Regions from separate parts of the Homo sapiens genome. Here region 1 is linked to region 2. The links come from fine-mapping of genetic effects on gene expression. A gene starts in region 2. The other region holds a variant in brackets. All regions are shown on one strand. Distances are from middle to middle.

Region 1 (2,904 bases), 92 kb after region 2:
CTCTCTCTCTCTCTGTCTCTCACACATACTCTTTATCCACTTATCAGTTGACGGGCACTTAGGTTGACTCCATATCTTTGCAATTGTGAATTGTGCTGTGATGAACATGCATTCAGGTGTCTTTCTTGTATCATGACTAATTTTCTTTTGGGTAGATACCCAGTAGTGGATTGCTGGATCGAATGGTAGATCTATTTTGAGTTCTTTGAGAAATTTCCAAACTGTTTTCCATAAAGGTTGTGAGAGGTGACAGCGTGCTGGCAGTCCTCAGAGCCCTCGCTTGCTCTCAGCACCTCCCCTGCCTGGGCTCCCATTTTGGTGGCATTTGAGGAGCCCTTCAGTCCCCCACTGCACTGTGGGAGCCCCTTTCTGGGCTGGCCAAGGCCGGAGCCCACTCCCTCAGCTTGCAGGGAGGTGTGGCGGGAGAGACAAGAGCGGGAACCGGAGCTGTGTGCGGCACTTGCGGGCCAGCTGGAGTTCCGGGTGGGCGTGGGCTTGGTGGGCCCCGCACTCGGAGCAGCCAGCCAGCCCTGCTGGCCCCGGGCAATGGGGGACTTAGCACCCGGGCCAGTGGCTGCGGAGGGTGTACTGGGTCCCCCAGCAGTGCCGGCCCACCGGCGCTGCGCTCGATTTCTCGCCGGGCCTTGGCTGCCTTCCCGCGGGGCAGGGCTCGGGACCTGCAGCCCACCATGCCTGAGCCTCCCACCCCCTCCGTGGGCTCCTGTGCGGCCCGAGCCTCCCCGACGAGCGCCACCACCTGCTCCAGGGCGCCCAGTCCCATCGACCACCCAAGGGCTGAGGAATGCGAGCACAGGGCGCAGGACTGGCAGGCAGCTCCACCTGCAGCCCCGGTGCGGGATCCGCTAGGTGAAGCCAGCTGGGCTCCTGAGTCTGGTGGGGACGTGGAGAGTCGTTATATCTAGCTCAGGGATTGTAAATACACCAATCAGCACCCTGTGTTTAGCTCAAGGTTTGTGAGTGCACCAATTGACACTCTGTATCTAGCTGCTCTGGTGAGGACGTGGAGAACCTTTATGTCTAGCTCAAGGATTGTAAATACACCAGTCGGCACTCTGTATGTAGCTCAAGGTTTGTAAACACACCAATCAGCACCCTGTGTTTAGCTCAAGGTTTGTTAGTGCACCAATCAACACTCTGTATCTAGCTGCTCTGGTGGGGCCTTGGAAAACCTGTGTGTGGAAACTCTGTATCTAACTAATCCGAT[A/G]GGGACGTGGAGAACCTTTGTATCTAGCTCAGGGATTGTAAACGCACCAATCAGCGCCCGGACAAAACAGGCCACTGGGCTCTACCAATCAGCAGGATGTGGGTGGGGCCAGATAAAATAAAAGCAGGCTGCGGGAGCCAGCATTGGCAACTCGCTCGGGTCCCCTTCCACACTGTGGGAGCTTTGTTGTTTCGCTTTTTGCAATAAATCTTGCTACTACTCAATCTTTGGGTCCACGCTGCTTTTATGAGCTGTAACACTCACCACGAAAGTCTGCAGCTTCACTCCTGAAGCCAGCGAGACCACGAGCCCACCAGGAGAAACGAGCAACTCCAGACGCACCACCTTAAGAGCTGTAACACTCACCGCGAAGATCTGCAGCTTCACTCCTGAGCTCAGCGAGACCACGAGCCCACAGGGAGGAAAGAACAACTCCAGACGCGCTACCTTAAGAGCTGTAACGCTCACTGCGAAGGTCCGCGGCTTCACTCCTGAGCCAGCGAGACCACGAACCCACCAGAAGAAAAACTCCAAACACATCTGAACATCAGAAGAGACAGACTCCAGGCGCGCCACCTTAAGAACTGTAACACTCACCGCGAGAGTCCGCAGCTTCATTCTTGAAGTCAGTGAGACCAAGAACCCACCAATTCCGGACACAGTTGTAGCAACCCCAACAGTGTCTAAGTGTTTCCTTTTCCCTGCATCTGCACCAACATCTATTGTTTTTTGACTTTTTGATAATGGCCATTCTGGCTGGGTTAAGGTGGTATCTCATTGTGGCTTTAATTTGCATTTCCCTGATGATTAGTGATGTTGAACACCTTTTCATGTTTTTTGGCCATTTGTGTGTCTTTTGGGAAATGTCTGTTCATGTCATTTGACAACTTTTTAATAGGATTTTTTTTATCTTGCTGATTTGTTTGAGTTGCTTGTAGATTCTGAATATTAGTCCTTTGTTGCGTGTATAGTTTGTAAATATTTTCTCCCATTCTGTGGGATGTCTATTTACTCTGCTGATTATTTCTTTTGCTGTGCAGAAGCTTAATTTAATTAGGTCCCACTAATTTTCTTTTTGTTGCATTTGCTTTCGGGATCTTGGTCATACATTTTTAGCTTAGGACGATGTCCAGAAGAGTTTTCCCTACTTTATCTTCTAGGATTTTTGTGGTTTCAGGTCTTAAAGTCTTTAATTCATCTCAAGTTAATTTTTATATATGGTGAGCGATAGAGATCCAGTTTCATTGTTCTACCTGTGGTTATCCAATTTTCCCAGCACCATTTATTGTATAGGGTGTCCTTTCCCCAGTGTATGTTTTCATCTGCTTTGTTGAAGATTGGTGGCTTCCAGGTATTTGGCTCTAATTCTGGGTTCTTTATTGTGTTTCATTGGTCTAGGTGTCTTACTTTCATATCAGTACCATGCTGTTTTGGTTACTATATCCTTATTCCTCTGGCTTTGTTCTTTTTGCCTAAGATTGCTTTGGCTATTGGAAGTGGGGAGAAACAGATATTAACTTGCAAATGTTCTTTTTGGAATTTAAATGATCATTTGAGACAGTCATTGTCTTGAAAAATGGTCTTCTTTCCTGTAATGGATAATGCATTAACAAGAAGGAGAACAAGAACAATTGTTCTCGTTGGTGGGTCAGTCCTATCTCTCTCTTTCTTTTCCCTGT
Region 2 (2,904 bases):
TAAGTTAACCATGTGGCATGTTGGCCCAAAGAAACCTTACCAATGATGTTACCAATTATCTTCCGAGATATTTTTAACATCTTTTTACTATAAAAGAAGGGCTGAAAAGGAGTCAATACTCATTGAGCATCTACTCTCAAGCTAAGTTTTTTACATTTTGCATTTGATTTTCAGAACTATAGTTAGGAAGGTTACTTGTGGTTTAAACGCGGACTCTGGAACTAGACCCCATGCCTTCTCCAGGAGCTCCTGATGACCACAGGCAACTTACTTTTGCTCCCTGTGCCTCAGTTTCTTCACTCGGAAAATGGGAATCGAAACAGTACCAATCTCATTAGAGCGGTTCCAGAATTAAATAATACATGTAAAATGCCTAGAGCTAAACTTGGCCCTCACTGTCATTATTATAAAAATGAATTATTAATGTAGATATTACTGTTCCTATTTCACAGATGAGGAAACGGAAGCTTAGAGAATGCAACTTACTAATGATCATACCAATGAGTGCAAAGTTTTGGACTCAAAAGCACGAATTTGATTAAATAAAAGTTACTTAGAGAGTAGGAGTCTCATAAATCCAATTTATGAAGCCTAAGAAATGACACGCGGTAAAATGATACTAGACACAGGCCGGGCTCTCAGGCTCGCGGACCGGGTCTGAGCACAAGCTGGCCATGGCCATGCGTCCTGGTCCCGGGGTGCCCGGCAGGGACCGGCGACTCTTGACGTTTATAAACACGGGGAAGTGGACTGCACTGCCGCCACCGCACCCCCGGTCCCCAGCGGCTCCACTAAGCCAACTTCTACCCGGCTCCCGCCGCCCCCGCCCGCGGCGCTGGCCCCAGGGCCGCCTCCTGGCAGCCGGAGGAGACCAGTCCCCGTCGCGGGCGCCGACGGCTGGCTCGACGCTGCTCCAAGGACAGCAGCTCGCGAGGGAGCGAGAGACAAAGGCACCGGACCCGTCCAGGGGAGCGCCGAGTCCCAAACGCCGAGCCCCGGGTGGCCTCGCTGGCTCCCACCTGCGCTTGCCCAGCCCGGCGGGAGACCGCAGGTGTCAGGGGCCGTTCGGGCCCGGTCCCCCGCAGCTCCGGCAGCCCCGACGTGACAGCGCCCAGGCCGGCGACCCTCACGTTCGGAACGCGGCTGGGCTGGCTCTGCGCCCGGGGGCTGCCAGCGCCGGGGACCCGAGGCGGGTGGCGGCGTGCGGACTTCCTCCTGGACTAGCCTGGAATCCTGCCCCAGCCCCCAACCGCTGGCGGCCGCCCCCGCCCCCGCCCCCGCCCCCACCCCCACGCCCGGCACAAAGGTCCCGGCGCGGCCCGGCCGGCGGCTTTAAGTGCTGCCGCGCACAGGAGACCGGAGGCCGCGGCCCGCGCTCCCACACCCGAGGCCCGCCGGCCCCTACCTTTTCCGCGCGGCGTCCGGGGCCCGGCGCGGTGGGCTCGGGCCTGCTGTTCCGCGACTCCCGCTGGGCCTCTCCCGCGGGCTGGCGGGGCCTCCCGGGTGTCGGGCGCGGCGGGTGGCGGCGGCTCCTCCTCCTCAGGGGCGGGAGGAGGGGACTCGGCGGCCCAGAGCCGCCCCCCGGCAGGAAACCAGCCGCGGCCCCGCCTCCTCTGCGCGTCTGATCCCGCTCCCGAGGCCGCCGCCGCCCTCTCCCTCCGGAAACGCATTCCTCTCCCGCCGCGTCAGCCCGGCCCGGGGCTAGGAGGAGGCGGAGGATGGGGCAGGAAGTGCGACCGGGACAAAGGAACCGGCTGCGCGGGAGCGCGCCTGAGGGAGGCCGCGGGGGGCAGGGCCGGGACTGCGTTGAGACAGTCGCCGTGCCTCAGTTTCCTCCTCTGCGAAGGGCGGGAGGAGTCGGACGCGCCCTAGAGCCCCGCGCGTTCCTGGTGTAGCCTGCTGGGCCCGTGTTCTTTAAGTTCCTCTTCCTCGGAGCCGCGCGTTCGACCCTCGCTCCCGTTTGTCCACTGATGTCCCGTTTCGAGCCCGGGAGATCCTGCATCTCGGAAGCCCCCTGAGTCCCGAGGCAAATCGGGACCGTGAGCCCCCCTACCCTGCAGGGCTCCATGGGGCCAAAAACCACGTGGTCCTTCTGGAAGGGAACTGGCTAAGCCAGGACTGCTTTTCTGGAGTGATAATGTGCTTGCCTGTGTCTAAGAGAAAGGTGAAGAATTGGGAAACCCATGGGTGTCACGAAGGGTGGTGAGACTGGGGAACGTTTTAGAAAACCTGGTGAGTTGCGTCCTGCTTTTGATAGATTTATCTGGAGGTACCTTTATGGGGAACAGGGATGAGAAGGAAAAGTTTCTTCCTAAGGAGTACAGTTTCTGTTTCACCTCTTAAAAAAAAAAAATTTGGAGATTGGGGCTGGAAACAACGTTTGAAAGAGAAGGAAACATTCATTATGAGAATGGCTGAACGCATGTCGATTCGATGATTGAAGTCTGTACCAGCCAAAATCATACTGAAACCCAGTAATTTAGTATATGCTACTGGCAAGCTGCTATCCTGGTAGCAGAAAATGCTGTGGGTTCCGCTTGGTGAGCTGCAGCACCCTGTTGGGAAAAGAGCTCAAAAATTACCAGATTTATGAAATAGAAGTGTTTCTCTTGCAGGAGATTAGGGACTGGAATGCCCATTTGGCTGCTGCCAATCAATATAAGAGAAAATGAAGCGATCACATCTAAGAAAATTTGCTCATTACTTACCAGCAAAATCAAAACTTGATTAGCCAATCTGAAGACCTCTAGGAAATGAGCACTATTTTTCCCACTTAATGGATGTTCAAGCTTAAGAGGCTAAATGATGTTCCTATATTAATATCTCAATGGTCAAACTGCCATTAGAACTCAACATTCTTGAATTTTAAAGGTATCGGTTTTACCATTGTTCAGAATTCATCAG

What was found. PIP is the estimated chance that this variant, and not a neighbour inherited with it, causes the effect.
Region 1: its variant is the best candidate, but not a certain one, in a credible set for the expression of ITGB1 in whole blood (TOPMed, PIP 0.52).

Annotation. Positions count from the first base shown.
Region 1 is chr10:33,048,803-33,051,706 of GRCh38, forward strand. The region is part of intron 2 of ITGB1-DT (ITGB1 divergent transcript); the gene reads left to right. Among named protein-coding and RNA genes, the nearest start is that of IATPR, 67 kb to the right of the region's middle. RefSeq lists an enhancer at 543-1,043. The variant A/G (reference allele first, on the strand shown) is at 1,226.
Region 2 is chr10:32,956,740-32,959,643 of GRCh38, forward strand. It overlaps ITGB1 (integrin subunit beta 1), which reads right to left and starts at 1,491. Exons shown (of 16, transcript NM_002211.4): 1 at 1,406-1,491. RefSeq lists silencers at 189-350, 744-1,193, 1,264-1,843 and an enhancer at 2,014-2,063.